4 linked regions of the Homo sapiens genome follow. The protein of the gene in region 2 purifies or fractionates together with the protein of the main gene of each other region. This does not show direct contact. Each region holds a gene or a part of one and is shown on either strand. Other genes may lie near its edges.

The links.
Region 1: the proteins of PTCH1 (region 2) and SULF2 purify together in Homo sapiens (affinity purification with mass spectrometry; 3 studies listed by BioGRID and IntAct, with this or other methods). This does not show direct contact.
Region 3: the proteins of PTCH1 (region 2) and CHST12 purify together in Homo sapiens (affinity purification with mass spectrometry; 3 studies listed by BioGRID and IntAct, with this or other methods). This does not show direct contact.
Region 4: the proteins of PTCH1 (region 2) and POMGNT2 purify together in Homo sapiens (affinity purification with mass spectrometry; 3 studies listed by BioGRID and IntAct, with this or other methods). This does not show direct contact.

The regions. Positions count from the first base shown.
Region 1 is NC_000020.11:47,663,475-47,670,496, forward strand, and holds part of SULF2 (extracellular sulfatase Sulf-2 isoform a precursor), read right to left. Parts: intron 3,015-7,022; coding exon 2,786-3,014; intron 2,684-2,785; coding exon of another isoform or gene 2,614-2,683; intron 2,483-2,613; coding exon of another isoform or gene 2,480-2,482; coding exon 2,383-2,479; intron 1,820-2,382; coding exon 1,725-1,819; intron 716-1,724; coding exon 656-715; intron 149-655; coding exon 1-148. UniProt on the Homo sapiens protein: Exhibits arylsulfatase activity and highly specific endoglucosamine-6-sulfatase activity. It can remove sulfate from the C-6 position of glucosamine within specific subregions of intact heparin.
Region 2 is NC_000009.12:95,499,256-95,506,277, reverse strand, and holds part of PTCH1 (protein patched homolog 1), read left to right. Parts: intron 1-7,022.
Region 3 is NC_000007.14:2,399,520-2,406,627, forward strand, and holds the start of CHST12 (carbohydrate sulfotransferase 12), read left to right. Parts: upstream 1-4,091; 5' UTR 4,092-4,154; exon of another isoform or gene 4,155-5,511; coding exon of another isoform or gene 5,512-5,581; intron 5,582-7,108. UniProt on the Homo sapiens protein: Catalyzes the transfer of sulfate to position 4 of the N-acetylgalactosamine (GalNAc) residue of chondroitin and desulfated dermatan sulfate.
Region 4 is NC_000003.12:43,103,079-43,110,981, reverse strand, and holds the start of POMGNT2 (protein O-linked-mannose beta-1,4-N-acetylglucosaminyltransferase 2), read left to right. Parts: upstream 1-4,902; 5' UTR 4,903-5,146; intron 5,147-7,903. UniProt on the Homo sapiens protein: O-linked mannose beta-1,4-N-acetylglucosaminyltransferase that transfers UDP-N-acetyl-D-glucosamine to the 4-position of the mannose to generate N-acetyl-D-glucosamine-beta-1,4-O-D-mannosylprotein.

The sequences.
Region 1 (7,022 bases), on a different chromosome or scaffold from region 2:
CCAGTGCTGGTTGTCGTGGGTGAAGCACGTGAGGCCTGGCATGCTGCACGTGTCGTTGTTCTGCAGGCGCTTGAGCAGCTTGCGGAGTTTCTTCTTGCGCTTCTGCTCCCGCAACAGCCACACCTTGTCCTTCTCTTGCAGGCCCTTCCTATGGGCGCAGAGGGCCACACACACCTTGGGCCTCTGAGGGATCAGTGACCCCATGTCTCTGCTCTTCCTGTCCACCTAAGGGCTTCGCTGAGGCTTCTCCAACAGAGAGCCATGGGCATAGCAATTCAGGGTCCCAAGTCCCAGTGCTGCTCCAAGGCAGAGCCGGGACCAGAACCTGGGTCTTGTCATTCTACTTTAACTCCCAAGGGGGCACAAGCTGGGGACAGAACCAGGCAGCTACTGGGACTCCTGTTGACACCCCTTTCCCCTCCTTCCTGTGTCCTGCCCTGCTTGGTGGAGTTGCGGTAACCCCATTTAGCCACAAGGGGGCGTCGGAGGCCCGCTCAGTGTTGATTGGGAAGTAAGGCCTCTTCGAGGGCTACCGTGGACTTCCCAGGGAAGGGCCTGGACTTCTTTCCTTTTCTTCTGAGTTTTAGCTTAAGGGAGGGCCACCTCCTCATGCAGGCCTCTGCATCTCTTCCCCAGGACCTCAAGCTGCTCTTACCTGAAAGGATGCAGACTGGAGCCTCTGTGCTTGAGGCGGCCTTTGTGCTGGGTGTGGTAGCTGTAACAGACCCCCCCAGCCCCAGGCTTCAGGAGTGGCTCAGAGGGCTCCGCTGGCAGGTGCAAGCTGTGATTTCTGGGACTCCCATGTGTTGCTGCTGCCCCACCCCTGTCCCTCCTTCTGGGGTGGTGGTGGGTAGGGCATGACCCTATCCTCAGGGCAGCAGGTGCCTGCCTGAGTGGCTTCTTTCTCCAAGCATGAGCCAGGACTCTGCCTGGACTTTTGCTAGACTTTAGCAGGTTGGGTTAATTGTAATTTAGCCACGACTAGAAGCTGGGCCTGGCTTTAGGTGCATCAGCCTCAGCATCCTTTTTCCTTTCTTTTTTGATGGTTAATTTTACATGTCAAAGCCTCAGCATCTTGAGGTTGGTTCCCTCACCACCCTGCCTACTCACACTTGGTCGGGGTCAACACAGGGAAGCCTGTGTTTTGCAACACTTTCTGGAAAGACAGCAGGGCTTCTACAGCTGTGCTGTCCAGTATGGTAGCCACTGGCCACAGGTGGCTACTTCAATTTGAATTAAGCAAAATAAAAAATTTGGCTCCTTAGTGACACTAGCCAAAATTTTAAGTATGCACCAGCCACGTGTGGTGTAGTGCAGATATAGCCCATTTCCGTCAGCACAGAATGTTCTATTAGAGCTGTTCTAGAGTTCAGTCCTTTGGGCCAGGGGACCCCTAAGCCGGGAACATGGACCTCAAACCACATGGGGGATTTCTGAAAGGGCAATCGGCAGAGGCACTTTTCCGGCCTGGAGCCGGCTCTGCGCAGCCAGCACGGGTCTCTTGCTAGCAGTACTGGAATCTGGGCGCCAGCCTGGCTGAGGAGCAGGTCCGTGTGCCACACTGGCTGACAACAGGGAGGTAAATTACGGATTTTTTTAATGCCATGAGGGGAGAAGATAAAGATAAAAATAAAAAATGAAAGGGGTCAATCACGAGAGGGGATGAACTGAACTGTCCTGTAGGAGAGTGGGGTCTTAGGGAGGTCCCTTTGCTACTGCCTCACCTGATTTTGTGACAGTCACATTCTTCTGGCCGCTTTTTCTTCAGGTGACCTCGGACTTCCCTCAGGTTCTTAATTTTGTTCTGCAGGGTTTCAATCTGAGGGAGGGGCAGAAGAGGAGGCCTTGAAACCTTCAAGGCTGGACAACAAAGACTTGGCCTGGTGACTGCCCCCACGCTGCCGTGTCTGTGCTCAGCAGCGGCAGCCTGCACTCCCCGGGCCCCAGGGCAAGCACCGGCATGTCTGGGTGGGGAGGAGGTACTTGTTCTGCCTGAAGGAAGCCCGCCTTCTCCTCCAGCCAGCCCTTGCAAGGGAACCGAGTCATTTTTCCGGCCTGGCCTGCGCAGGAACCCGCTGAGCCCACTGAGGCCTCCAGTGTCTCCCCTGGGTTTGATGAAAGGCCTCCTGTAGCGTAGACTTCTTGTAAGTCAAAAGGGGGACAACGTGGCTAAGCCATCGTCCCTCAGACGGCCTGGGCAGGAAGCTATCTGTCTCATGCTGGGACTGACACCTATCCCCGCGTTGAGGAATCTGTGGGGACCTCACTTCACCTCTCCAGCCTCTTCCCTGGGTCTGGCCTCACTGCCCTCCCACTGTGAACCGGGGGTCCTGCCAGGCCCGTGGTGGCCGAGAGCATGCTCCTCTCCCGCTCTCCACTCACCTCGTGGTCGATGTGCAGCTTGTGGTCTTTCCAGGCCTGCAGGGACTTGTACAGGTCCAGGTCACACTGGACTGTGTCGTTCTCTAGGATGTAGCACCTGCTTGAGAGAAGGGATCACGTGTGGCTCGGAGGTGGTGGAGGGGGAGCAGCCCAGGTGCCCAAGAGGTGTGGGAAGCCCTTGCCGAGGTCTGTCCTGTCCCCTTCACCCTCGACTTCCACCTGGACACTCACCGATGTGTCACTTTAATGGGGTTGGCGGCTGAATAGTCGGGAAGGCCTCCAGTGCCACTGAAGTCCCCACCATCCTTGTCATCTTGGTCCTCAGGGGCCCAAGAGGTGTGGGAAGCCCTTTGCCGAGGTCTGTCCTGTCCCCTTCACCCTCGACTTCCACCTGGACACTCACCGATGTGTCACTTTAATGGGGTTGGCGGCTGAGTAGTCGGGAAGGCCTCCAGTGCCACTGAAGTCCCCACCATCCTTGTCATCTTGGTCCTCAGGGGCCCCTGGCCAGTGCCGCTTGGTGAGGTTTCGGGGCTGGGCGGCATCACCCAGGCCTACGTGGTACACCCTGCCGTCCACCTCGATGGCCACTGAGCGGATGGAGCGACTGCGGACATAGCTGGCCTTGTACTCTGTGGGCATTAGAGGAGTGGCAGAGTTAGGGAGGCAGGAAAGGCTGGCCAGGCTCCCAGGGCAGTGGGTCCTTCATCAAGATAGGGCCGGGCTTCCAAGCATGAGGCTCAGCTTTGCCTGCGACTCGAGGGGTCGTGGAATCTACCCGCCTGCTCGCAGATCCTGGACCGCAGGGGAGGGCCTCGAGGTGATCACACCGGCAAGACGGAAGTCCTGGAGCCAAGAAGCCACTGACTCAAGAGGATTTCAAGCGAGAGCTGCTTGCGGGTAAACAAATGGCGGTACATCATCTGTACAACGGAATATGCGACCAGAACCAGGAGCGAGGTTCTGATTCACGCTAGAGCGTGGATGAATGTCAAAAGCAGGCGGAGTGAAACCAGCCAGACACAAAGCGGGCTCGTATTGTTACATTCTATTTATAGGAACTACCCAGAATAGGTAAATCTATAGCGGCAGAAAGAAGATTGGTGATTGCCAGGGGCTGGGGGAGAGGGTAGTGAGGAGTGACTGCTTTGTGGGTACGGGGTTCCCTTTTGGGGTGATGAAATGTTTTGGAACTAGGTAGAGGTGTGCAACACTGTGAACCTATTAAATGCCTCTGCATTGTATATAATTGTAAAAATGGTGAGTTTGATGTTATCTGAACTTCACCTCAATTAAAAAGGAAAAAAAGTATCATGGATGTAAAAATGTTGATTTAAACTGGGAAAAAGGGGCCCTGCAGTGCCTGTCTCTGGGTAGAAATGGACGGGGACTGGGGAAGCCACTTAGCTTCTTTGAGTCCCAGAGAGCTGGAGGCTGCCCACCAGGTGGTAGGCAGGTGCTACACCCAGGTGGGCCGGCAACAAGGCTGAGGGGGGCTTTTGCATACGCCCTGACGCTGAAAACTCAGGGGTGCAGGCTGAAGTGACACCCCAGGTAGCCTGTATCTTCTATGTCTCAAAAACAAATCTGAGTTGGTAACATTAAAGAAAAAGGGGAGGTGGTGGCGGTGATGTAGGGATCCAGATTTCCAGCTTCCAGAAAGGAAACAGATGTCTCACGGGCCCACAGTTCCATATGGTCAGGACGGGCCGGGGATGGGCGGCCCCTTTGGCTGCCCACTGTCTTCCCTGTTGGCCACAGCCCCCGCCACTCCTTCCTGTTTTAAAACCTCTGCCCACCTGACACATGTCTGGCCCCAGCAGGCACGCACTGCAGTTGTCATCCTTCTCCAGATGTGCCTCATTTAAAGAGAAGGGCCTGGAGCCAGTTAGTGACCCAGGTTTTGTTGGATCCCAAGTGACCCCGAGATGGTGACCAAAGAGGACCAGCTGGAGGCAGGTGGTGGCGGAAGGCAGTGGAAGGAGGGAGGAAAGGGCTCCCTTCTCACGTGGCCCGGGTGCCACCCCCACTCTTGGGGGATGTTTTGTATCTTTCAGTTCTCAGACACCTTGCATCAGAGTCACAAGGGCCGAAGGATCCTGAGGGGCCGGGAAAGGCCTCCCCTCTCCAGCAGAGCCTTGGGCCTTTTCTGACACAGGGCAGCCTTCTCCTGGGCACTTCTCTCCCTCGGTTTAGTCTCCCGATGCAAGTACACAAATTGCCGAGGATGGTCCCTGTGCCAAGCAGGTCCTGCCCCGAGAGGCTCAGGAAATAGACCCAGCGTGTCCTCTCCACTCCTTTTGTCTCAGTCGGCTCATAAGTGAGCTGCTTTGCCTCTTTCCACCCTCCATCTCCCAGCTCTAGATTCAGGGGTCCCTAAACCATGGCCTAAGGGCCCAGGCCAGCCTCCATCTGTCTTTGTGAATACAGTTTCACTGGGTACAGCTGCTCGCATTCCCTTATACCTCTGCAGTCGCAGGGCTGAGTTGCAAAGCCCAAGACCTTTACTCTCTGGCTCTTCACAGAAGCGGTATGCCAGCCCTGTGTGAATCCTTTCCTGGACTGAAGCCACACTACCTGCTCTCCCCATCACTCTGTGTTCATGTCCAGAGTCCTGGAGGTACCCTTCCTGCCACACCAACAGGGAATGGGACAGGACTTCATAACCCGGCGGCCAAGAGCTTTGACTCTGCAATCAGATGGCTCAGGTGCAAACCCCTGAGCACATGTGTGGCCCCGGCGATTTGGGTAACTTCTCAGGATGGTGCCTACCCTACAAAGGCTCCTTGGAGGATGGCACGAAACGGAACTAGTGAAGCATTCATGCCTGATGAGCTGGTGTGGACCAGCTACTGCAGGGGGTGGGGACTCTGCCTGCAGCTGACGTCCTCACCTAAGGTGACAACCCTGGGCCCACTCCCTGCCTCTCCACGCCGGTGACCGCCTGTGTGATGTGGCTGCCCATGCCCATGGTGCTTCTCACCACCCTCGGCCACACCGGTCACCTCTCTGTGACTGGGACTCACCGCCCTGATTCTGAGCACAGGGTCTTTGTACTCCATCTTCCTCCTCCTCAGAACACTTGCTCTCTGGCTGGTCACAAGACCTGCTCCTTTCTGTACTTTGTTCTCATTAAATGTCCATTGAGCGCCATTCTGGAGCCGCCACCCCTCTCTGCTAGTCCCGCCACCGCTGCGTCTCCTTCATGCGTTTTTCACCAGCGGAAGTGGCCCTTTGTTCACTTGTTCACATCTTGTTTCATCCATGAGGTCCAAGTCCGTGTCTCTCCAGGTCAACTCTAATCTCAGTGTCTTGCACAAAGTTCAAGAAATGAATGAACCCCAGTCAGCTGGGCCCATCCCCCGAGTCCTCGTCCCCTTCTCCTGTTCCTGGGTCCCCCTTCTGCTGTGAGCTGGCTGGCTCTGCCTAACCTCCCCACGCCACAGCCAGGATCCCCGTGGATCAAGGTGGGCCAGGGCTTCCCAACCTTACCACTGCGGACACTTTGGGGTCAGATCAAACTCTGTGGTGGGGGCCGTCCTGTGCGTTGCAAGATGTTTTGCCGCATCCATAGCCTCTGCTCACTAGACGCCAGCAGCACCCCTCCATCACACACAATTGTGACAGCCAAAACTGTCTCCAAACATTGCCAAGTGTCCCCTGGGGGACAGAAAGCCCCCAGTTCAGCCTGCTCTAGGCTGACTGCTCAGAAAAGAGGGACAGAGTGTCTTGTCGGAGACTCTAGCAGGGGGAAGAATGCCAGGCAGGAGATGGGGCTGGAGTCCCCAAATCAGCCACGTGACCCAGTCTTTCCTGTCCATCATCCCCTGATGATCACCCCTGCCCTGCTCACAGGGCTGTTGAGAGGTGCAGGTCCCGGCTCTGACATTACACTCACATGAGGATTCTGACCAGGGCTGAGCTGACTCTCAGCTACTTTTAGGTATTTTTCTTTCCTCTAAGCATTAATAAGGGGAAAAGAGCTGAATTTCTCCCTGCCAGATCTTGTATTATTTAAAGATTATCGACTGTGCCACATATTGAAGCAAGGAGATGCTGGCTGTGTAATCCAATCTGGAAACCAATCATTCTGTTCAGCTAGAAAAGTTAATGTAGTAGTTCCTAATCAGCTGGTGAGGAAATGTAACGGAGGGTCATCAGCTGGGAAACGGTGTTTCAGGCAGTGGCTGGGCTGTTATGGAGAGAGACTTATCTGCTCCACGATGAAGACATTTGCTGCCTGGCTGGCTGGACCAGAGGAGATCACTGCGCCTGCCGTCAGAGACCTCAATCTCTAACTAGTCTGTGGTACAATATCATCCGTCTTATAAAGAATGGAGACTTTTTGTTTTTTTTGAGACAGTCTTGCTCTGTCACCCAGGCTGGAGTGAAGTGGCATGATCTCAGTTCACTGCAACCTCCCGCTCCCAGGTTCAAGCCATTCTAGTGCCTCAGCCTCCTGAGTAGCAGGGACTACAGGCGCCCACCACCATGCCTGGCTAATTTTTGTATTTTTAGTAGACACGGGTTTCACCTTGTTGGCCAGACTGGTCTCGAACTTCTGAGCTCAGGCAATCCGCCTGCCTTGGCCTCCCGAAATGCTGGGATTACAGGCGTGAGCCACTGTGCCCGATCAGGAA
Region 2 (7,022 bases):
GTTTATTGTTTGGGCGCCTGGCCGGGAGCCAGGCCCGCCCGACAAAGGCCGCGCTGTAATCTACTCGGGGCGCTGCGCCGGCCGAGGTGTGGTGGGAGAGAGCGGCGGGGGCGGGACGGGGGCGCGGGGCCCCTCCGGGACGGACCACTCTGCGCGCCGGGGGCCCCGGGCCCGCCGCCGCTGCCGCTGTCCGCCTGGGCCGCGCCCCGAGAGGCGCCCCGGGGCTGGCCTCTCCCGGCCCCGCTCCGCGGCCCGGCTTTCTTCTCTCCCCCACCCCCACCCACCGCGTCCAAAGAAAAAGGAGTCGGGGAGAGCCAGAGGCCACCCCTCCGGCTGGCTGGAGTGTGCGCGCCCCCGGCGGCCGCGGCCGCCGCGCTGGGGAGGGCCGGGGGCGGGCGCAGCGCGGGGCTGCGGAGGCGGCGGCGTGTGTGGTCCTGTTTTTGGACAGCTTTCAACTCTGAGGGAAAAAAACATTTGTCTCAAGGTACAAAAAACGCGGGGTGGGGGTGGAAGGAGTGGAAAAAAAAATAGTAAGGCACAGACTGGAACGCATGTTTGCAAAGTAGATTAATGTTTCCTCGCGGGTGGGGGCTTTTTACATGGAATTATTCTGGGGGAAGGCTGCATTTTGCAGGCAAAGAAAAGAAATGTTTTAAGAACGCGGGGTTGAAGGGACCTCTCAGAGGGGTTCTGCCAGTCTTTTATCCACGTTCCTCAGTTTTGGGGTTCTTGAGACCTTAGCAAAGCAGTTGCAGATTTAAAATAGATATATATTTTTTCGAAGACAAACATTTTTACATTATTTTGGTGACAAAGGTTTCAATTTTTTTCCCCCGCTGGTTTCTTATTTATCTTTTTGGCAAGTTCCAAATCCTGCTATTTGGAAACACTTTAACCCTAAACACCACTTTGGGCATCCCTTACCTTACAAGAGGGTAGTAGGGGAGGGTAGAGGTGACTAGGTAGATAATTCAAACCAAAATACCTGGAGCATTCCTCCGGACAGCATGTGGAAGCTGAAGAGTTATGCGCATAATCGCTTCAGTGATCCCTTTCAGGATGCTGTTGGAGACCTTGAAGAATATTTCCTTAATCTCTCCTTGTTTGTGAAGATTCAGCTTGCAGAGTTTTGCAAGCCTGGGGTGGAGTTGGAGTATTTAGTTGAGAAGTGACAATTAAAATAATAGTCTACATAATTAAGACAAAACATTCCTGCCTTAAGTAGTTTGGTAATTAATACAAAAGCGTTCTTTGGATTGAATCCATGGAGTAATTTACCTCAGTTCAGCGATTCAGTATCACTGGTAGATAAAAGAAGGGTTTTATCGAGCAGCTATTATGCTCCTAGCAACAAGTTTCTTGAGCACCTATGATGTCCCTAGCACTGTGTTAAGCACCATAAGAGACTCAAGTGTGTGCGACACTGCACAATTTAAAACTATTAGAATTCGATGCATTTGGACTACATTTGGGTTCACAGCTGAAATGGGCTGTGAAAGTTACAAGAGGGTGGTAGGGGGTGGGGGGAGAGAACTGGAGACGGTAGGGGAAGGAGGGCATTTTAGGCATGGGCGGGACACCAGCAGGGGCCCCAGCTGAGGAGTTTGGAAGTGATGTGATTGGCTAGACTGTAGGGGCGCTGCCGTAGATTCTAGGACAGAATAGGGCATGAGGACAGGGAGGGCCGCTGCCGTAGATTCTTGGACAGAATAGGGCATGAGCACAGGGAGGGCCGGCTCATCCACCACTTGATCCAACCTGTATTTGTTGCCATCGGATGAGGATGACAAAACGTGATTTTGTGGTGTTCTTAGCAAGAGTTTTCAGTGGACCTTTGACATGTTGAAGGAGATAGAATGTGATTTATTTTCTTAACATTGCATATTTCTGGAAATAACTTGCTTTCTGCATAACACGACCCATTTCAAGTCCTGGAAGGAGATGCAGTGTGCTTCCTAGCAGTTTTATGGGAGCTGCCAGTTGTGTAGTGAGAGGGAGTAAAGTTTTTCTTTTTCAATGGACTGGATGAGGACACTTCTGAGGGGCACACTCACTTTGCTTACTTTTGGCAGTTTCAGCATGACTCACTGGTCTTGGGCCAAATGTTATTTACTCAGTACTAATACTGTCACTTGTTGAGCAACTGCCATGTACCAGGCATTTGTTATATATTATCGCATGCCTTACGATTCAATAAAATAGCTATTATTATCTTTTTTTTTTTTTTTTTTTTTTTTTTTTTTTTTTTTTTTTTTGAGACGGAGTCTCGCTCTGTCGCCCAGGCCAGACTGCGGACTGCAGTGGCGCAATCTCGGCTCACTGCAAGCTCCACTTCCTGGGTTCACGCCATTCTCCTGCCTCAGCCTCCCGAGTAGCTGGGACTACAGGCGCCCGCCACCGCGCCCGGCTAATTTTTTGTATTTTTAGTAGAGACGGGGTTTCACCTTGTTAGCCAGGATGGTCTCGATCTCCTGACCTCATGATCCACCCGCCTCGGCCTCCCAAAGTGCTGGGATTACAGGCGTGAGCCACCGCGCCCGGCCCTATTTTGTTTTTATAACATGATAGTGGATGTAATGTCTTTATGATGAGGATTGTCCCATTTTACAGATGGGAAACTATGGGTTGTCTGTTTGTCTCCAGGTCTACTTTGCCTACTAATGACATAAGTCACTTGTTCTGTTGCCCTGTCCTTGATCTCTCATTCATTCATTCATTCATTCATTCTGTGCTAGATTCTCCCCCTAGAGAAGAAGCGACAGTTTCATAAATGCAGATAGACCCAACTAGAGAGGTGACTATACAACAGTAGCCATATAGATTTAATTTCATTTTCAAAGCAGAAGTGATTGTGTAGAGATCTTGTTTGTGACAGAGTGAGCTGAGTGTTCACGTCAGCAGTAAGTAGTGTGAGCATTTGCATTCAGGAGTAAGATTTCCCTGCTGTCCTATACCTCAGTGGACGTCCGTGAATTGAAGTGAGTAATAGCTCCACATTTAAGTTCATTTTGTGCATCAGTCTCATAGATAAATTCCTCATCACTATCAGCAAAGAAATCTGTTAGATGCTGCTTTCTTGGTAGGTTGTTCTTAAGGTTCTAGACATGAATTTTTATATGAACTGGGCATCAACAGAGTGCTTGCTACACAAACGAAATGGATAGAGGTAGCATATTGCCCTAGTTAGAAAACAACAGAAGAGAGGAAAGTATGAGATTTTAAGGGGAGAGGGATGCTGAGGGATAGTTTGGAAGAAGCTCCTTCTCCTGCGGTTTAAAATCACAGGAGCGTGTGTGTGTATGCACATTGTCTTATTCTGCATATCCTCCTATCTGCCAAAGGCATGTTAATGTTATCTTTTTAATACAGCCAGCAAATTAAAGGGATCCACTCGAAAGGCTGTGTCTTCAAATTGACTTTCATGCTTTGTTTAACATGCTGGGGAAATGTGGCTTTATAAAGAGTTGGCTTTATAAAGAGGGCAGAATACATCAGCCACAATGTGCAGACTAATATATGCTAGATGAGAAAGAGTCCGTGTGTGTGCATGCGCGTGTGTGTGCGTGTGTAGGAATTGGTGATAAGAATTATTGTATTCTGTTGTTAAAATGTCCATATAATGATTGCCTTTTAATAAACTGTCAATTATATGTTAAGATACCAGCTTGAGTTTTAGGGTTATAGTGTTTGCTAATCAAAATTGTCAAATCAGTTTCACATATGTGCGGAGTAATGAGGTTTGATAGAGAATATGTTGACTGATGTAGTGGACATCTGCTGTTGCAGAAACACATGACCATGGCAGCAAGGTGGGGGAGAAACTAATTGTCATTGTATAAAAATAGAAGCGTTCATTCTGCACATGTTCTCAGTACCTACTCTGCACCACCATTGCAGAAAGCTCTCCAGAGAGATGTTGGTGAAAAGCCACAGTCTCTGCCCTCAGGGGAACTCCATCCAAACATTCAGCAGGTACACGGACTGGTGTGTGGGTAGTTAACATGAAGGACAGCAGTGCCAAGATGGCAGGAAAATCGGGGACATCTTCCAGGATGGCCTCAAGGGTGGAGGCCTGAGCTAGGCACAGGGGCTGGAGGGGAGAGGGTAGGGGGCATTCAGGGCAGAAGGAACAGCATAGGCAAAGGCTCAGAGAACAGGAATGTGGCCTCCTGGAGGGCAGCCTCCCTTTGTGGGTCGTTGAGGTTGGGTGGGAGCCTGGAAGCTGGGCTCGTCCCTCAGGGCCATTTCACAGAAGTCTCCCTGCTTGGCTGGGGGCTGTCAGCTCTTCCTACTAGCCATCCCTGTCTCACGAGTGTGCTCACGTGTTGGCCTCTAGTGTTTTCCCTGGAGCCACGAATGCTTCACCTGGATCTCACCTTTCTGGGCACAGACTGGTGTTATTTTTAATCTTGCCTGTTTCTTTGTTGGTATTTCCTTTTTGTTAAGCAGTTTTAACCCATCTCCCTCAGTATCTATTTCTTTTCATATCAGCCCCCTCACTGCAGCCCTCCCTCAGAACAAGTTTCTTGTCAAGCTTCTCCAGCGATAGAACATTCATTTATTTCTTTGAGCTTTTTGTTTTTTCTAAAAGCTTGCCCAGCTCCTGGCCTCCTTTTCTGCAGAGGGCAGCAGCCTTGTAATGAATCCATATTGCTTTGGTGTTTGGATGTTAACATTGCTGCAGGCCAGCGTCAAGGAAGAAGGAGGCAAGTTGTGACTTTGACTTTTTTTTTTTTTTAAGAAAAATAGAAGAAATTGTTTTTTAAAATACATGCTTGGTATGTGTAAGTGCTTTCAAGTTTGTACCTTGCTAGTGTTAATGCTTTCAGTGTTCTTGAACTCAGGCAATCAGTTGTAGGAGATAACTGAGTTTCACCACTCCTTCAATTTGGAGCAAGGTCCCTCAACCTCAGGACTATTGACATTGGGGCTGGATCATCCTCTGTTGTTGGGGGCTGTTCTGTGCACTATAAGATGTTTAGCAGCATCCTGGTTTCTACCTACTAGATGCCAGTAGCACCCTCCCAGTTGTGACAACCAGAATGTTTCCAGTCATTGCCAGATGTCACTGGGGGAGAGGGTGTCCCAAATCATCACGATTGAGACCCACTGGTTTAGATGATAAAAAGATTTTGATTGGAAGACTCATGCTGTGCAGATGGAAGACGTTTATTATGATGGAGTTGTGGCTACAATGCATTGCAGAGATGCAAGAGTATTAATCTTCTTTAAGATAACTCCCCCATCCCATTCCTGTATTTATAGACCCAGATAACTATTTTTCTTAGAATGACATTAAATGTCAAAGAAAAACACCGTGATGGGTCGAAAGAGGAAAGAGGCCATGGAAGAAAGAAATAATTTATATTTGGGTACCTTTTGGTGGGGGGTATCTAAATTTGCAGAAAGACTGGTTGCACCTCAACCCCAGTAGCCTGAAGGTTTTTAGCATGGTTGACTTTCTGAAAAGCTTTAATAGAAGACACCACTGCCTTTGTGCATATTGAAATAACAGCTCCTTCAGAAGCCCGGCTAGTGTGTGAACTCCTTGGTGGTCTCATTCTCCTCCAGATGTTTCTGTCACAAACCACTCCCCCTTGTCCCCCCAGGAGCCCTTGTGGAGCAGAACCAAGGGACAGCAAGGGACCAGTCCCAGCCAGAAGGGCAGAATGGATTCTGCTGTCACTGCCCTTCCACAGTGAGCACCTGGTTTCTTTTCTCTGGGGTTGCCATTGTGGGGGCATTTCACAAGGGACAGGAAGAAAAATGCAGCTCCTTTCTGCTCCCTGGACCCCCATACATGGTTTAGAAGGGAGAATATGTTTATAGGTATTTATTAGTTTCTACTACTGGGTATGCACATTTAGGTGGAAGCAGTTGTGATATTTCTTTCATATTTGGAGAAAAACGATTGGAAATGAGAAGCCACCAATGATTGTTTAAAAAAGAACAAATAGCCCTCAGGTGTCTTCTACACAGGGCAGTTGACCCTGCGAATCCTCCCTATCTCTTTGCTGTCTGCCATTCTTGACCCTTCACCAAGTTGAGAGGACAGGTTGGGTAATGGGGTGTTTCAGATACATAGGATGCCGCTCAGAGGTTCCAGAAGATGACAGCTTCCAGATGTATGAACAGCCTGATCCGTGTGTTTAGATTATGCACCACAGCTGATGCCGAGATTAATGCTGGCTGGACAAGCCATGGGAGATTTGTCTGGTTTCCACAATGCCATGTTTATGTTTCATTTGAGTTTCTCCTTCAAAGCTGACCTGCCTGTGACCCTGGGCTCTGTCCACTCGGGCAAGCTGAAACTCGGGCAAGCTGAAACTCGTCTGCCCTGTTCTCCTGCTTGTATTGGGGTAGGGGAGAGTCACAATTGGGCGGAGAAAGGGGCGCTTTGGTGGCCGCCTTCTGCCTCACCATGCCAGCTATCTGCCCAGATTTAGCCCCTGATGAGTGTTCAGTTCTCCTCGGGGATGTGTTTCACTGTAAAAGGTTTTTTGGCTTTTAAAACAAATATGGAAATATTATAAAATAACTGTAAAGGGGACCAGATTTAATAGAAGCCACTTTGCATAAATGTAGTATTTTAACTTCTGGCACTCTTTTGACACTATTTAGGGGGAGAAAAAGTTGAGGGAATTTCAGCTATGTCAGACACCCCCACATAATAACCATGGCTGTGTCATCCTATTATAATACTATTAATGTTTCCTGTGCCCCTCGCTGGCTCCCAGAACCTCTGCTGCCTCCTCCCTCTCTCCCCTGCCCCCTTCCCTCCTGCCCCTTCTCCCGCCCACCCACTCTAACCTGCCCACGTCATTTCCTTCCAAGTGGATCTCTGCAGTTACTAGTGTGAACTCTGAAATGGTAGTAAGTCTGGCTAATCACAACCTAAGAGGAGGGAATGAGAACATTTATTATTTCAAGCCAGCTGTGGGAGATACTAGATACAGAGCTGCCATTTGCATCCTTGGCATTCTTATTTTGGTTAGGGTTGGTTCCAAGACCACACTCTTTGA
Region 3 (7,108 bases), on a different chromosome or scaffold from region 2:
TCAACTCCTGACCTCAGGTGATCTGCCCGCCTCAGCCTCCCAAAGTTCTAGGATTATAGGTGTGAGCCACTGTGCCTGGCCCCTCTTGGATTTTCATATCATCTACATGGTTAATTGAATTTTCAATTCACAGACCTTGTTTTGTTTTGTTTTCATATCCTGTTAATGATGCTTATATGGATCCCAGGGCCAGAGGTCATCAGGATCTCCCCGCAGCAGCGTGGCCAACGTAGCGAGACCTCCATCTCTACAAAAAAACTAAAGAAATTAGCAAGGCATGGTGGTGTGCACCTGTAGTCCCAGCTACTCAGGGAGTTGAGCCCAGGAGGCTGAGGCTATAGTAAGCCATGATGGCACCATTGCACACTCCAGCTTGGGTGACAGAGCAAGACCTTGTCTCTAAAAAAAGAAAAAAAGAAAAAGAAAAAAAAACAAACAAACCAAAAACAAAAAAACCTCCCGGAATTCCATAGCTGTTACTATCAGTAGCAGCTAATGTTTCCTGGCTGGCCTCTTGCCCAGAAGCCACAGTTACCGCTTTTCCTTTGTTGCAACCCTGGCTATGAAACCAGAAATAGTTGTTGCTGGTAGAGACACTGAAATACCTCAAAGTAAAACCCAGAGGTTGGGCCAGGCTGTGGTCAGCTCCGGGGAGACCACAGACTTTGCAGAGGGGCCCAGGGTCCCTGAAGATGGGTGGCAGCCAATGGAGCTGCTGGGGAGGGGGATGGGCAGCCAGCCAGAAGGAGCCTGGAGCCTAGAAGAGGAGGAGATAAAAATCATCACAGTGAGGTGTCTCCAGGGCCGAGCTGAGGCCCTGGCCCAGGAAGTCTCAAGGCTGTAGCGTGGCTCCATCTTTGGGGTCCACAATTTGGATTCAGGTCCTGGCTCTGTCACTTACACAGCTCTGTGTCTCTGGCTAGTTGGTTACCTTCTCTGGTCCCCTGCTTCCTTATCTGTAAACCAGGAGATAAGGTATAGCCACTGCAGAGTGGGTAAGTAAAATGTATCTGCATGTTGCTGATGTAAGAGGCGAAGTTGCCATAAAGTAAAAGTAACCATTTGAAAGTGAACAATTCAGGAGCATTTAGTGCATTCGCAATGCTGCTGACGTAAGAGGTGAAATTAACATAACATAAAAGTAACCATTTTATTTATTTTTATTTTTTTATTATTATTTTTTTGAGACGGAGTCTCGCTCTGTCGCCCAGGCTGGAGTGCAGTGACACGATCTGGGCTCACTGCAAGCTCTCCCTCCCAGGTTCACGGATTCTCCTGCCTCAGCCTCCTGAGTAGCTGGGACTACAGGCGCCTGCCACTATGCCCAGCTAATTTTTTGTATTTTTAGTAGAGATGGGGTTTCTCTGCGTTAGCCAGGATGGTCTCCATCTCCTGACCTCGTGATCAGCCCGCCTCGGCCTCCCAAAGTGCTGGGACTACAGGCGTGAGCCACCGCTCCGGGCAGAAAGTAACCATTTTAAAATGAACAATTCAGGGGTCTTTAGTGTATTCAAAATGTTGCTGATGTAAGAGGTGAAGTTGACATAACACAAAAGTAACCATTTTACTTATTTATTTATTTATTTATTATTTTTGAGACAGAGTCTCACTCTGTCACCCAGGCTGGGGTGCAGTGGCATGATCTCCGCTTCCAGCCTCCACCTCTCAGGTTTTTTGTTTGTTTGTCTGAGACGGAGTCTCACTTTGTTGCCCAGGCTACAGTTCACTGGCGCGGTCTCGGCTCACTGCAACCTCCAGCCCCTGCGTTCAAGCGATTCTCCTGCCTCAGCCTCCTAACTGGGATTACAGGTGCCTGCCACCACACCCGGCTAATTTTTTGTATTTTTAGTAGAGACAGGGTTTCATCATGTGTTGGCCAGGCTGGTCTCGAATTCCTGATCTCGTGATCTGCCCGCCTACACCTCCCAAAGCACTGGGATCACAGGCGTGAGCCAACAAGCCCAGCTGACCTCTCAGGCTTAAGCGATTCTCCCACCTCAGCCTCCTGAGTGGCTGGGATTGCAGGCGCCCGCCACCAAGCCTGGCTAATTTTTGTATTTTTATTTTTAGTAGAGACAGGTTTCACCACGTTGGCCAGGCTGGTCTTGAACTCCTGACCTCAAGTGATCCACCCACTTCGGCCTCCCACAGTGCTGGGATTACAGGTGTGAGCCACTGCACACGGCTGATAGTGAGAAATTTCTAAGCTGAGACAGGCATCACAGGGTGACATTGCCAGAGGCTGTCACCTTATTTACATACGTGCAATTGCATATATGTATGTATACAACATAGACATATTATACATGCATAATACAGGTCTATATGTATGTGTACAATATATAAACATATATACTACATACATACACATAGGTAACATGTATGCATTACACATACGTATAAACATATTATCTACTGTGAGTGTGTATATAATATACACATATATTTTGTGGTGGTTGTTTGTTGCTTTTCCCCCCCACTAGAATACAGGAGGGCAGGGGCCTTGCCCGTCTCCCTCACTTCCACATTTCCAGGGCCCGGTGGGTTCGGAACTCCTTTGGGACTGGCTGCAGGGAGTGGAAGAGTGAAGAGATGACCTTGGTTGGAAGGCTGCCTCGGGAGTCCATCGGAGGGGGCCAACTAAAAATATCACGGATTGAAAAAGTTCTTGGGGTGGATGGTGGGGATGTGAAAGTGCTTAATGCCACTGCAGGGAGTGCTTAAAAATGGTTAAGATGGGCCGGGCGCGGCGGCTCACGCCTGTAATCCCAGCACTTTGGGAGGCCGAGGCGGGCGGATCACGAGGTCAGGAGTTCGAGACCATCCTGGCTAACACGGTGAAACCCCGTCTCTACTAAAAATACAAAAAATTAGCCGGGCGTGGTGGCGGGCGCCTGTAAGTCCCAGCTACCCGGGAGGCTGAGGCAGGAGAATGGCGTGAACCCGGGAGGCGGAGCTTGCAGTGAGCCGAGATCGGGCCACTGTATTCCAGCCTGGGCGACAGAGCGAGACTCTGTCTCAACAACAACAACAACGACAACAACAACAACAACAACAACAACAAAGGTTAAGATGGTAAATTTTATGTTCTATATATTTTACCATAATTTAAAAAAAAAATGACTGGGCCTGGCGCGGTGGCTCACGCCTGTAATCCCAGAGCTCTGGGAGGCTGAGGCAGGAGGATTGCTTGAGTCTAGGGGTTCAAGACCACCCTGGGCAACATAGTGAGACCCCCGTTTCTATTAAAAATTAAAAATTAGCCGGGTGTGGTGGCACCTGTCTGTAGTTCCATCTACTTGGGAGGCTGAGGTGGGAGGATGGCTTGAACCCAGGAGGTCGAGGCTGCAGTGAGCTGTGACTGCACCGCTGCACCCCATCCTGGACGACACGGTGAGATCCTGTCTCTAAAAAAATAAACAAACAAACACACAAAACTACATTGATGCCAAGAACAATTACTGCATGCTCACTATGCATTAGGCATCTTGCTAAGCTCTTTACCCGTGTCATCTCGTTTGTCTCACATACTCCCTGAAAGGTAGGGTCACTAACCTATTATATTTTACGGATTGGCGACAACCTCAGAGAGGTTAAGTCACTTGCCCAAGGTCACACAGCGAGTCTCAAGCCCCAGCCGGTGAGCATCACGATCCTTTGCCAATGAGCCGATGCTCGAGAAAGGGTCGGATAGACAACAGGCACTGCATAAAGGTTGGTTAACGGGATCGTGTTTGGCTGCAACGTGGAGCTCCCGGGTCGAACGGCGAGACAGCTGCGCGTCCCCGAGCCGCCGCGCGCCCGGTCCGCCGGGGCGGAGTCAACGCCGCGGATTGGCTGCTGAGAAAGGGGCGTGGCTCGTGGCGGCCGGTGGGCGGAGTCGATCTCTGGCCGTAAATACGGCGCCACATGGCACTGGCTCGCGAGGGCGGGGGCGGGCGGGCTGGCCGGGCGCAGGCGCGCTGAGGGCGGGCGCCCCTCGGCCTCCGTGGCCCCTCCGGCGGCCGCGACGTCTCGCGAGAAGACGACCGGTAGGAGGGGCTCCTGCGCCGGGGGCGGGGCCGGCGAGGGCTGCCTCTGGGGGGTCCGCTAGTCGCGGGGCGGCGGCGGCGGCTGCGGGCGCGAGGTGAGGGGCGCGAGGTGAGGGTCGCGAGGTGAGGGGCGCGGCGGGCGGCGGGCTCGGGGCGCGGTCTCCCTCTCTCTCGGCCAGTGCTGGGCTCCCAGGGCCCGGGCGGGGGTCCCGGGCCGCGCTGAGGGGCGCGGGTCGGCTCTCCTTAACCTGGCCTGGCGGGCGCGGCTTGGGCCTGGGTTCGAGTTCCCGCGCCGGCGCGCAGTGTGACCTTGGCCCTGCGCGCGCCCTCTCTGAGCCCCGCTCGTCGTCCTCGGCCAGGGGGACCCAGCCCTGGGGCCCTGATCAGCGCGTTCTGCGGCTCCTCGGGGTCTGGACGAGAAATCTGTGGTTCTGATTCAGCGACAGCAGAGGCTGCAGCGGCCCCGCCGGCCCCCAGGAGTCCCCCTGCCCGGCATCAGCCTCTGCCGCCCGGCAGGGGTAGGACCAATTCCCGGGCTTGGAGTTCCAGGATCCCCAGCTCCCGAGGGCCCCCGTGTGCCTGCTGTCACCTGAACGGGGCTCCCCGGCCCCGCCGACCGCAGCCCTGGAGCCTGCAGACGCCAGCAGCACCGGCAGGTCGCTCAGGGTATCCCTTAAATGACCTCTCACTCCAGAAGCCGCAGCCCTGCCCCTCTGGGAGAGGAAACCGTGCATTTAGTCCGGGAACAGTGGGACTTAGACCTCCTCTGCGGGCTCCCGGCCACCGAGACACCGCCGGCAAAGCCTTGGCTCGGGCAGAGGCTCCGTCTGGCAGGCAGCACAACAAGCCATAGTGTTTCCAGCATTATTAAATTATTTAGTTCATAAGCGGGGCTGTGGGGACTCGGAAGCCCCGGGGTGAATAGGAATGTGAGTTGCAGGCGCGGTGCTGGACGCAGTACATCTTCCAGGACACCAGGCCCTACGGTGCTGTTCCCGGCTGTGGGTGGTTGGGGACAGCTCAGCGGGTCCCCCACTTACCCCCACGCGGGGACCCGGGTTAGCCCCTCACCGTGAGCATCTGGTGTTGGGAGTCAGGGCTGGTGTCTGAGTGAGGATGGAGAGAAAACAGGGGTAATGAGGAGATTGCTACACGAAGGTGCAACGCTTGAGATCTGAAAGAGCACCTGCCTGGAATGGCATAGATGTTTGATTTCCCTGCAAAGGAGTTTATGGGACTTTGGGCTGACGCTTTGGGGCCAGCAGTAACTGTCTGCTGTCACTCAGCTGACTCCAGCTTTATTATCAAACCTCCAATCGAGTGCAAGATGCTAAGCTGGGGTAGATGCCGGTAATAGCGTGGGCCTTGCCCTGGGAGCTCACGGCCAGCCTGGCTACAACTGTGTGGAGTTGAGACTGTGGTGCAGGCGTTAACAGAATGTGGCGACATTTTCCGACATTTTCCACAGTGGAGAGGACCTATGAATTGGGGCGTTTGGAGGCAAAGGGCATGCAGAGATGTGGAAGTGAAAGTGATGTTTGGGGGAGATGGTGGGTCGCCGTGTTCTTGATGAAGTGGGGTTTGAGGATTGGGTTGGAAGCTAAGACTGGAAGGCCGGGCGAGGTGGCTCGTGACTGTAATCCCAGCACTTTGGGAGGCAGAGGCGGGCGGATCACCTGAGGTCAGGAGTCCGAGACCAGCCTGGCCAACATGGTGAAACCCCATCTCTACTAAAAATACAAAATTTAGCTGGGCGTGGTGGTGCACACCTGAAGTCCCAGCTACTTAGGAGGATGAGTCAAGAGAATAGCTTGAACCTGGAGGCGGAAGTTGCAGTGAGCCGACACTGGGCCTCTGCACTCCAGCCTGGGCAACAGAGTAAAAAAAAGACTGGAAAGATGGGTTTCTGATTGTGCAGGGGCCTGAATGCTGTGTGAGGGAGTTTAAACTTTTATCCCTTTGGTGGTGGTTTGGGTGCGACGCGATTAGATGTGTTTCAGAAAAGTGGTCGTGGTGAGAATATGGGAGGTGGGTTTTGCCTCTGGGCAGTGGAGCTGAGTTGAGTAGCCTTGTGGGGCGTGGGTCTGGGGCAGTGAGAGAGTGGGGGCGGGCATGGAGCTGAAAGATGTTGCCAAATCCACTGGGCGGTGGCGCTTTGTGAGATGTGGCGACCTGTAACAGCGAGGGCAGCCGGGACTTCTCACCTGCGATGAGGAGCGCTGCGGCCAGGTGGGAGAGGAAGGGCCACACAAACACACGTGGGTTTTAGACCTGCAGAGTTGGCGGTATTGGTGGCCATCCTGGAGGAGATGTGACCTGGTGGAGAAGAGACAGCCTGTACAAGGAGGGAATCCCCAGGAACCCCAGTGGGAAGGGATCCAGAGCTGAAGAGAGGCCCGTTGGTTGGCTGACCTTGGGCGTGCAGTTCCTTGACTACGCACAGTCATTGAGGCTGGCAGGTGATTCTCTTCTAGTGTGGGTCAGGGGCTGAAGGAGCCATCAGTGGGAAAAGACGGGTTATTGATGATACTGAAACACATGCGGCTTGTTTGTCATTTAAAAAAACCGTACATCTTGAGTTTCGATTCTTAAGTTGTCTTTCTTTTCGGAGAGTAGCTGTTAGTTTCACACTTGCTTAGTGGGTCTGTGGCTGCAGGCGGGACTGTGGTTCTCCAGCCCTGGCCCACAGATGTGCCTGGAGATAATTGACTCTCCAACTTATTACTTCCTGCTGTTAAGGTGGTGGTTTCTGTAACTGTTTAGAAACTTTAAAGATATTTCAGAGAAGAATGGGAGACAGGTACAGTTGAGTACGGGGTGGGGGCACAGTTGAGTATGGGGTGGGGGCACAGTTGAGTACGGGGTGGGGGAACAGTTGAGTATGGGGTGGGGGCACAGTTGAGTACGGGGTGGGGGCACAGTTGAGTACGGGGTGGGGGCACAGTTGAGTACGGGGTGGGGGCGCGGTTGAGTATGGGGTGGGGGCGCAGTGCTGAACAGGGCACAGGAGGAGGAAGCGAACAGGGACCCTTTGGCTCCCAGAACATGACCAGCTGGGGCTTTTCCCTGTAGACAGG
Region 4 (7,903 bases), on a different chromosome or scaffold from region 2:
ACCAATCAGCCAGGTCACTTGCAGATTTTGGACCCAAACAAATGGTGAGACATAACAAATGATCATTGTTGTTTTATGCCACTAAGTTTTGGGGTGATTTTTTATGCAGCAGTAGATAACTAATATGGGATGATAATATTCATTATCTGATGTTACATAATCAGATTTGAAAACCTAGTGGCTCAAAAATAACTAAAATCATTGATTATTTATTGTGGTTTCTGTGGGTCAAAAATTTAGATAAAGCACAACAGGGACAGATTAACTTTGCTGTGATGTTCAGGGTATCAGCTAAGGTGGCTTGAAAGCTATGGGCTTGTATTAGTCTGTTCTTGCACCTCTATAAAGAACTACCTGAGACTGGGTAATGTATGAAGAAAAGAGGCCTAATTGACTCACAGTTCTGCAGGCCGTACAGGAAGCACGGCTGGGGAGGCCTCAGGAAACTTACAATCATAATGGAAAGTGAAGGGGGAGCAAGCACATATTCACATGGTGACAGGAGAGAGAGCTTGCAAAGCAGGAAGTGCCACACACTTTTAAACCATCAGGTCTCGTGAGATCTCACTCACTATCATGAGAACAGCAAGGGGGAAATCTGCCCCCATGATCCAATTACCTCCAACCTGGTCCTTCTCACAACATTGGGGACTGCAATTCACCCTGAGATTTAGGCGGGGACACAGAGCCAAACCATATCAGGGCTGGAGTCATCTGAGGGCTCATTCGCTCATATATCTGGCAATATATATTGGTTGTCAGTTGAAAGCCTAGCTGGGGCTGCTGGCTGGTATACCCATTGTTATGGACTGAATGGTATCCCCCTGCCCTCGAATTCATATGCGGAAGCCCAAACCTTCAATACGTCAGAACATGACTGTACTTGGAGATATGGCCTTTGAGAGGTAATTGGGTTAAAATGAGGTGATTAGGCTCATTTTTGGGTTAGGCCATAATCCAATCTGACTGGTATACTCATAAGAAGAGGAGATTGGGACACACAAGAGACACCAAGGATGGGCATCCATAGGGAAAAGGCATGTGGGGGCTCAGTAAGAAGGCGGCCATCCTCAAGCTATGGAGAGAGGCCTCAGAAGACACCAACCCTGCTGACACCTCGATCTTGGACTTCCAACCTCCAGAACGGTGAGAAGTAAATCTCTGTTTTTTAAGCTGCCCAGTCTGAAATTTTGGTATGGCAGCTCTAACACATTAATACACTCATGCAGGTCCTATCCATGTAACCTGAGCTTCCTCACAACATGGTGAATCTGTTCCCAAGGCAACCAGAGAGAGACAGAGAGAGGATGTACCACTTTTATGACCCAGTTTCAGAAGTCACATAGCATCACTTCTGACATTTTCTGTTCATTGAAGTGAGTTACTAAGTTATGCCCATATTTGAGGGAAGGGAACTAGACTCCCCCTTTCAAAGGAAAAATAGTCAAATAATTTGCAGACATATTTAAAAACCATCCCAATCTTTACCATCACCACCATGTTCATCATGCAGATTTTAAGATCCTAGCAGGCCAGCCAGGTGGAGGTGTGTATGCCCCAAGCAACTTGGATTGGGAATGTGGATCTGGAATTCAGGGCTAGAGATGTGGGTTTGGAAGGCATCCACACAGAGAAATAGAAAGGGAATATGACCCCAGACAAAGGGAGAGGGCTTGGACTTGAGGAATGCCTAACTCAGCTTGGCATGCATGAATATGGATTTAAAATGCTGGGAAAGACCTCAAAAAGCCAGCTACCTAAGCCACCTTGGATATTTAATAAAAAGAAATGTACTAGTTTTTTCCAGTCTACTAAAGCTTCCTACCAGCAATGCTCCACAGCCAGAATAGTTTTCAAAACATGATGGACTCAAAGATGATCAGTGTCTGCAAACTGGGTCCTAGGTGACTTACAGGCCATCCTGTTAGATCCTATCCAGGAGATTCAGCTTTGGCCAGAACCCAATCCCTGTCCACCTCCAGCAAGGGGCTGCTCTCTTGGACTGTTAGGTGCCTCTTTCTATCAGTGACTATGACTGGCTATCTTATAGAGACCCATAAACTCAACATAGGAGCTTTTTAAAACTTAGAAGTTTTTTAAACAACTTATATTTAAAATAACAAAACAATATATGTTCACTTCAGAATAAATTCATACAGGTAACCAGCAAGATGACAATAAAAAAACACCCATAGTCTTACCACCCTGGGTCATGGCTCATTGAAATTTTGCTGATATCCTTCTGTGCTCTGTGCTGTTACTGTGCACAAATATATTCTTTTTAAAAATGGGATCTTATGGAATATTTTATACTTTTTTCATTAAATATGATATAATGTGAAATGTCTTCCACTCTATTAAGTAAATACTATTTTGCAGCATCTTTTCAATGATTTCTGAGATGATCTGTGATTTTACTTAATCCTGCATGACTGAGGAATTAAGCAGTTTCCAAATTTGTTTTTTTTCCTACTTTTTATCTTGAAATAATTATAGATTTGTGAAAATCTATAATAAGATAGTACAGAGAGGAATCTCTTCATCCAGTTTCCCCCAATGGTTACATTGTACGTAATTATAATACAATATAAAAATCAGGAATTTAACCTTGATAGAAAGTTTGTGTGTAGTTTTAGTCATTTTATCACATGTGTAGATTTGTGTAACCACTACCACAATCAAGACAAAGAACTATTTCATCAGTACAAAGGCTTCCCTTCTGTTACCCTTATATATTCACACCTACACCCTGTCTTCAACCTCTGACAACCACTAATATTTTCTCCATCTCTATAGTTTTGTCATTTCAAGAATGTTATACAAATGGCAACCAGAGTATGTAACCTTTTGAGACTGACTTTTTTTCACCCAGCATAATGCCCAAGTTGTGGCATGTGTCAATTGTGCCTTTCTATTGTTGAATGATATTCTTTATATAGATGTAATCACAGTTTATTTAACCATTCACCTATCGAGGGGCATTTTGTTTGTTGACAGTTTTTGACAATTACAAATAAAGAAAGTAGGAACAATTGTGTACAAGTTTGTGTGTTAACATAAGTTTCCATTTCTCTGGAATAGATGCTCAGGAGTGTGATTGATGAGTCATATGGGAAGCATATGTTTAGTTTTTTAAAAGAAACTACCATGATATACCCATCTGTGAGTAATATATGAGAGATCCAGTTCTGTGCATACTCACCAGCATTTGCTATTTTATTTTTTAAGCTGTTTTGTAGTTGTTGTTGTTGTTTGTTTGTTTTTGAGATGGAGTCTTGCTCTGTAGCCCAGACTGGAGTGCAGTGGCGCGATCTCGGTTCACTGCAACCTCCGCCTCCTGGGTTCAAGTGATTCTCCCCTGCCTCAGCCTCCTGAGTAGCCGGGTTTACAGACGCGCACCAACACATCCAGCTAATTTTTGTATTTTTAGTAGAGACGAGGTTTCACCATGTTGGCCAGGCTGGTCTTGAACTCCTGACCTCGTGATTCGCCAGCCATGGCCTCCCAAAGTGCTGGCATTACAGGCATGAGCCACCGCGCCCTGCCTTTTTAAGCTGTTTTAAATAGGTGTATGGTGATATCTCAGCATAGTCTTAATTTGCATTTCCTTTATGGCTAGTGATGAACATCTGTCCTTATTTGCCATCTGTATAACTACTTTGGTAAAATATATATTAATGTCTTCTGTATATTTAAAAACTTATGATCCAGGATACAGTTTATCTTAATATATATACCAAGGTTGCTTGAAAAGAATGTGTATTCTGTTGGTGGGTGAAGTATTATGTAAATATCAATTAGATTAGGATGGTATTAGTGTTGATCTTTTCTATATCCTTGCTGACTTTCTGTCTAGTGTTCTATCAGTTGTTGAGAGAGGGATGCTGAAGTTTCCAATTACAGTTGCAGAGTTGTCTATTTCTAATTATGGTTCTATCATTTGATTTATTTATGTTAAGGCTATGTCGTTAGGTGTATCCACATTTAGAATTATGTCTTCTTGGTGAATTGAACCTTTTATCATTATATAATTATCCCTTTTTTATTCTTGGTAATTTTCCTTGCTGTCAATTCTACTCTCTCTGAAAGTAATATCACCACTTCAGCCTTTCAGTTTATTATCATCTAAACAACACTATTCAGCCTTTGCAGTCATCCACAATTATTAGAATTTCTTGGTTAGAGGCTTTTGACTACATGTTTTTAAAGGTTTTTGGCTGTATTGACAAATTGCCCTGCAAAAATTTACCAACTTAATACCTTAACATTTGGGCTAATTTAAAATAATCATAAATTAAAGTCAGGGCTTTCCCAATTTGATAGGTAGAAATCTTATAACTCTATGGAGGTGGAGTTGGTGGTGGTAGGTGCATCTCTAGATGACTTAAGTTCAAAAAAAGTCAAGAGATCTAAAAAAGAAGTCAAAAGATCTAAAATTCATAACTCAAGAAATAGGGGCATATGTATATTCGGAGAATCCGCGGGAATGCCAGATGCCACAGCCATAAGTAGCTGCCCTTGAGGACTGGACAGCCAGGACTGGACGGTGGGATAAGGTGACAGCTGGTTAATGGAATGGTGCCGCAGAGGACTGGTGCTTTTGTAAGTTCTCTGTAGCATTACAATTTTTAAAAGCATGTAAACGTATTAATTACCTTGACTTTACAATGACATTTGGTTGTTGGTTAAACTTGCATTTAAATTTATTATCAGAACTGCCATAACTGTGTAATCCTAACACTAAGTAAAACTCAGCCTCTCGGCGCAAATTATCACTCCCAACATTCCGCAGGCTGGTGGCGGCGCGGGCTGTCCTCGTACGCAAAACTACACCTCCCAGGATTCCGCGAGCCAAGGTTGTGGCCGGGGCCAGGGCAACCGAACTCGCGGCTCTGCGCAGGCGCACAGGCTCCGCGCCGGGCTCGCCCGCCGGGCAGGCGCACGGCGGACACCTGCGAGCCTGGAGGTGGCGGTCGCTGCGAACCCGGCGGCGCGGCCAAACCTGTGCTGGCTGCCTGGGCCTTCTGGGCCTCCTGGGCCAGAAGCTGGCGCTGGGGGCGGCGGCGGGGTGGGAAAGCGGCGCCGCCGTGGGGCCTCCTGGACGCGTCGGCGGAGGTGGCTTCGTCCCGCGGAGTCCAGGCTTCAGGTAAGACGCGCGCGCGCTTGGGGCTGGAGCGGACTCCGACACCCGCCTGGGACTTGAAGTGGAGGTGTCGAACCCTCGGCCCCCTGGAGGGGACGACGCGGTGCTGGGCCCCGGGGTGAGGGGGAGGTTCTAGGACGCCTTCGGGATCCAGGAGAGTTTGCAGAACTGAGGGGTGACGTGTGAAGCGAGCTGAGGGAGGCGCGGGAGGTGGGCGGGGCGGGGGTGGACCCTCAGGGTCGGGGGCCGGGGATTGGGGGTCGGGGGCCGGGGGCCGGGGACCTGGGCAACGCCCTGGGGCTTGCCAGTTCGAGCCCTCAGCTCGTGGCAGGCACTGGCGTCGGGTCCTCAGGCCCTTTTGCTTTGGGAGGTGATGGGTGGTGCACATTTGGCGGGGGTGGTGGGGAGCCACGCGAGGTGCGCGGAGCGGGCCTGGGCCTCCCCAACTGCCTTTGAAGGCAGAACCCCGGCAGGCCTGCAGCTGATTCCTGGGCGCTTTGGGGGCCAGTAGGGCACCTACCATGTGTGTCCGGTGGTAAGAGCTTGCCACGGCCTGCTTGGCAGTGCCAGAGTAGCCTCTGAAGAAGGAACCCAGTGAACTCCTGACTCCATGTGTGTGTTTAGGAACCCGTCTCCAGCTCACTGATGGGAACTCTCTGCTAAAGTATGTGACCGTCAGGCCAGAGTCTTGCACCAGGTGCAGGGCGACCAGTGTCTGCCTACTTTATTGCCAGCCAACACTTAGAGCGTACTCTTGGGAGAAGCAAGGCTCCGCGTGGAAAAGGATGACTTCAGGGTTATGGGGCGAGCTTGATAGGACTTAGTAGCTAAGAGCATAGACAGAGGAGGTTTCATTCACCAAATGTTTACTACAATATGTGCCCCGCCTTCAAATCTTGGTTCTCGGCTACTAGCGGTGTGCGTTTAAGCAAGTCACTTATCCTCTCTTAGCCTCTGTTTCTTTCTCTGTGAAGTGGAGATGAAAGTACAGTGCCTTTATCACGGGGTTGCAGTGGGGATGAAATAGTGCCAGGCAAGTCCTCAGCCCAGTATGTCTAACAGTAAGTGTGTGGCAAATATCAGCAGTCGTGGTGACTAACGACAGAAAGTGTTAGAGGTGCTTGGAGTCCAGGTTCATCTTTAATGGTACTAGCTGCCCTCTCTGGCTCTCATGAATCTTGCAGATCTTCCAGCTCATCCTTTCAATATTAATTTTGAGGAATCTCAGTCCCTGCAGAGCTAGGAAAGAGCATAGGTCCCCTCATCCCCAGGGGTGGTCAGCACGTTCCTTCCTGAGCCTTGGGCCCCTGCGAGAACGAGAAGGAGAGTGGAGATCTTCAGCAGAAAGGAGGGCATGGTGCTGGTGGCTGGGCCCACCGTGGCCATGTAAGCATGCTAGTTGGCAAGTTCTTGCTCTGAGCCTTGCTTTAGAAAATATTTAGCAATAAACAAAGCCTTCTAGTAAATATTGCACTAACTAGAAAATTAGATTACCAAATCCCCCATTCCAAGGGTCCTTGCCAATCTCAGCTTGGTTGTCAGTGGGATACTTTCCCCCCAGGACCTACCAATCACGTGATTCCCAGGGTTTCTTAAATTGGATGAAATAATGAATGTGAAAGGTGGAACCTGCAAATGTCATCACGGGCTTTGGAGTCCGTCTTGGTTTTGAATCCTAACCCCTCTACTTAATTGCTGTGTATCACTGGGCAATTCACTTAATGCCTCTAAGCATACCTTCTTAAATGTGAAATTGAATTAATAGCATTTACTTCAGGTAGTGGGGAATAAATGAGATAATGCGTGTAAAACAGTTAGCACTGTGCCTGGCTGAGAGTGAAAGCCAGTGAACAGGAGTTATTTTACCATTACGATTAATAATAATATTAGAAAAATAATTGTCAGACATGGTGTTTTGCCTTTGCTGTCTCTTTGAATTCACAAAACTACCCTGTGAAGTAGGTATAATTGTGTTTTTCAAGCCAGGAAGTGAAGGCTTGGAGAGGTAAAGAATTGGCCTAAGGTCACTTAGCTGCTAAGTGACAGGGATGGGAATTCATATCCTGGCATCTCCAGCTCCAGAACTGGTGCCATGTAATTCTCCTTCTCTGCTGCCCATCGTCCTTGCTGTTCTTGCATTCTTGAAGCCCAGTTATGACCTGGGGCAGCCTCCAGTCTTGCAGCAGGGAGTCTTCCCGCACCAAGTGGGTCAGAGGCAGGACCCTGCAGCCTGGCTGTGTGTTTCCTCTCTGTGGCTGGTGTTGGATGCATGGTGAAGCTGTAGGGGACAGTCCCTGAGTGAGTTCAGGGGAGGAGGTGTTAGGAAGAGGCAGCCCAGGCAAGCCCTGTCGCCTCTTTAGGGTCTCATCACTGGACAGCAGGGCTGGGTGAGGGGGCAGTGCTGGGTGAGGGTGCAGGCTGGGTGGGATCTGGGAAGCTTGTGTATGAGAAGAAATGCCTTCGTTTAGCTCCTGGGAAATGTTCTGGGGCTGCATAATTCTCTGAGCCTTATCTTTGCTTTGTGAGGGAGAGCAGCCCTTGAGCTGTGGATAAGGGAGGAGAAGGAGCCCTGGACTGAGAGCCAACATTCTGCCATTTTAATCCTGGCTGCCTGTGAGAGCTCACACTGCCTCTCCAGACCTCTTTTATGAAATAAAGAGTTGGAGGAAATCATTTCTAAGGGTTCTTGTAGCTCTAAAGGGCAGTGGTTTTGTAATTCTAAATTGATGGCCTAACCCTCTCAGCACAGTACCAGGGCAC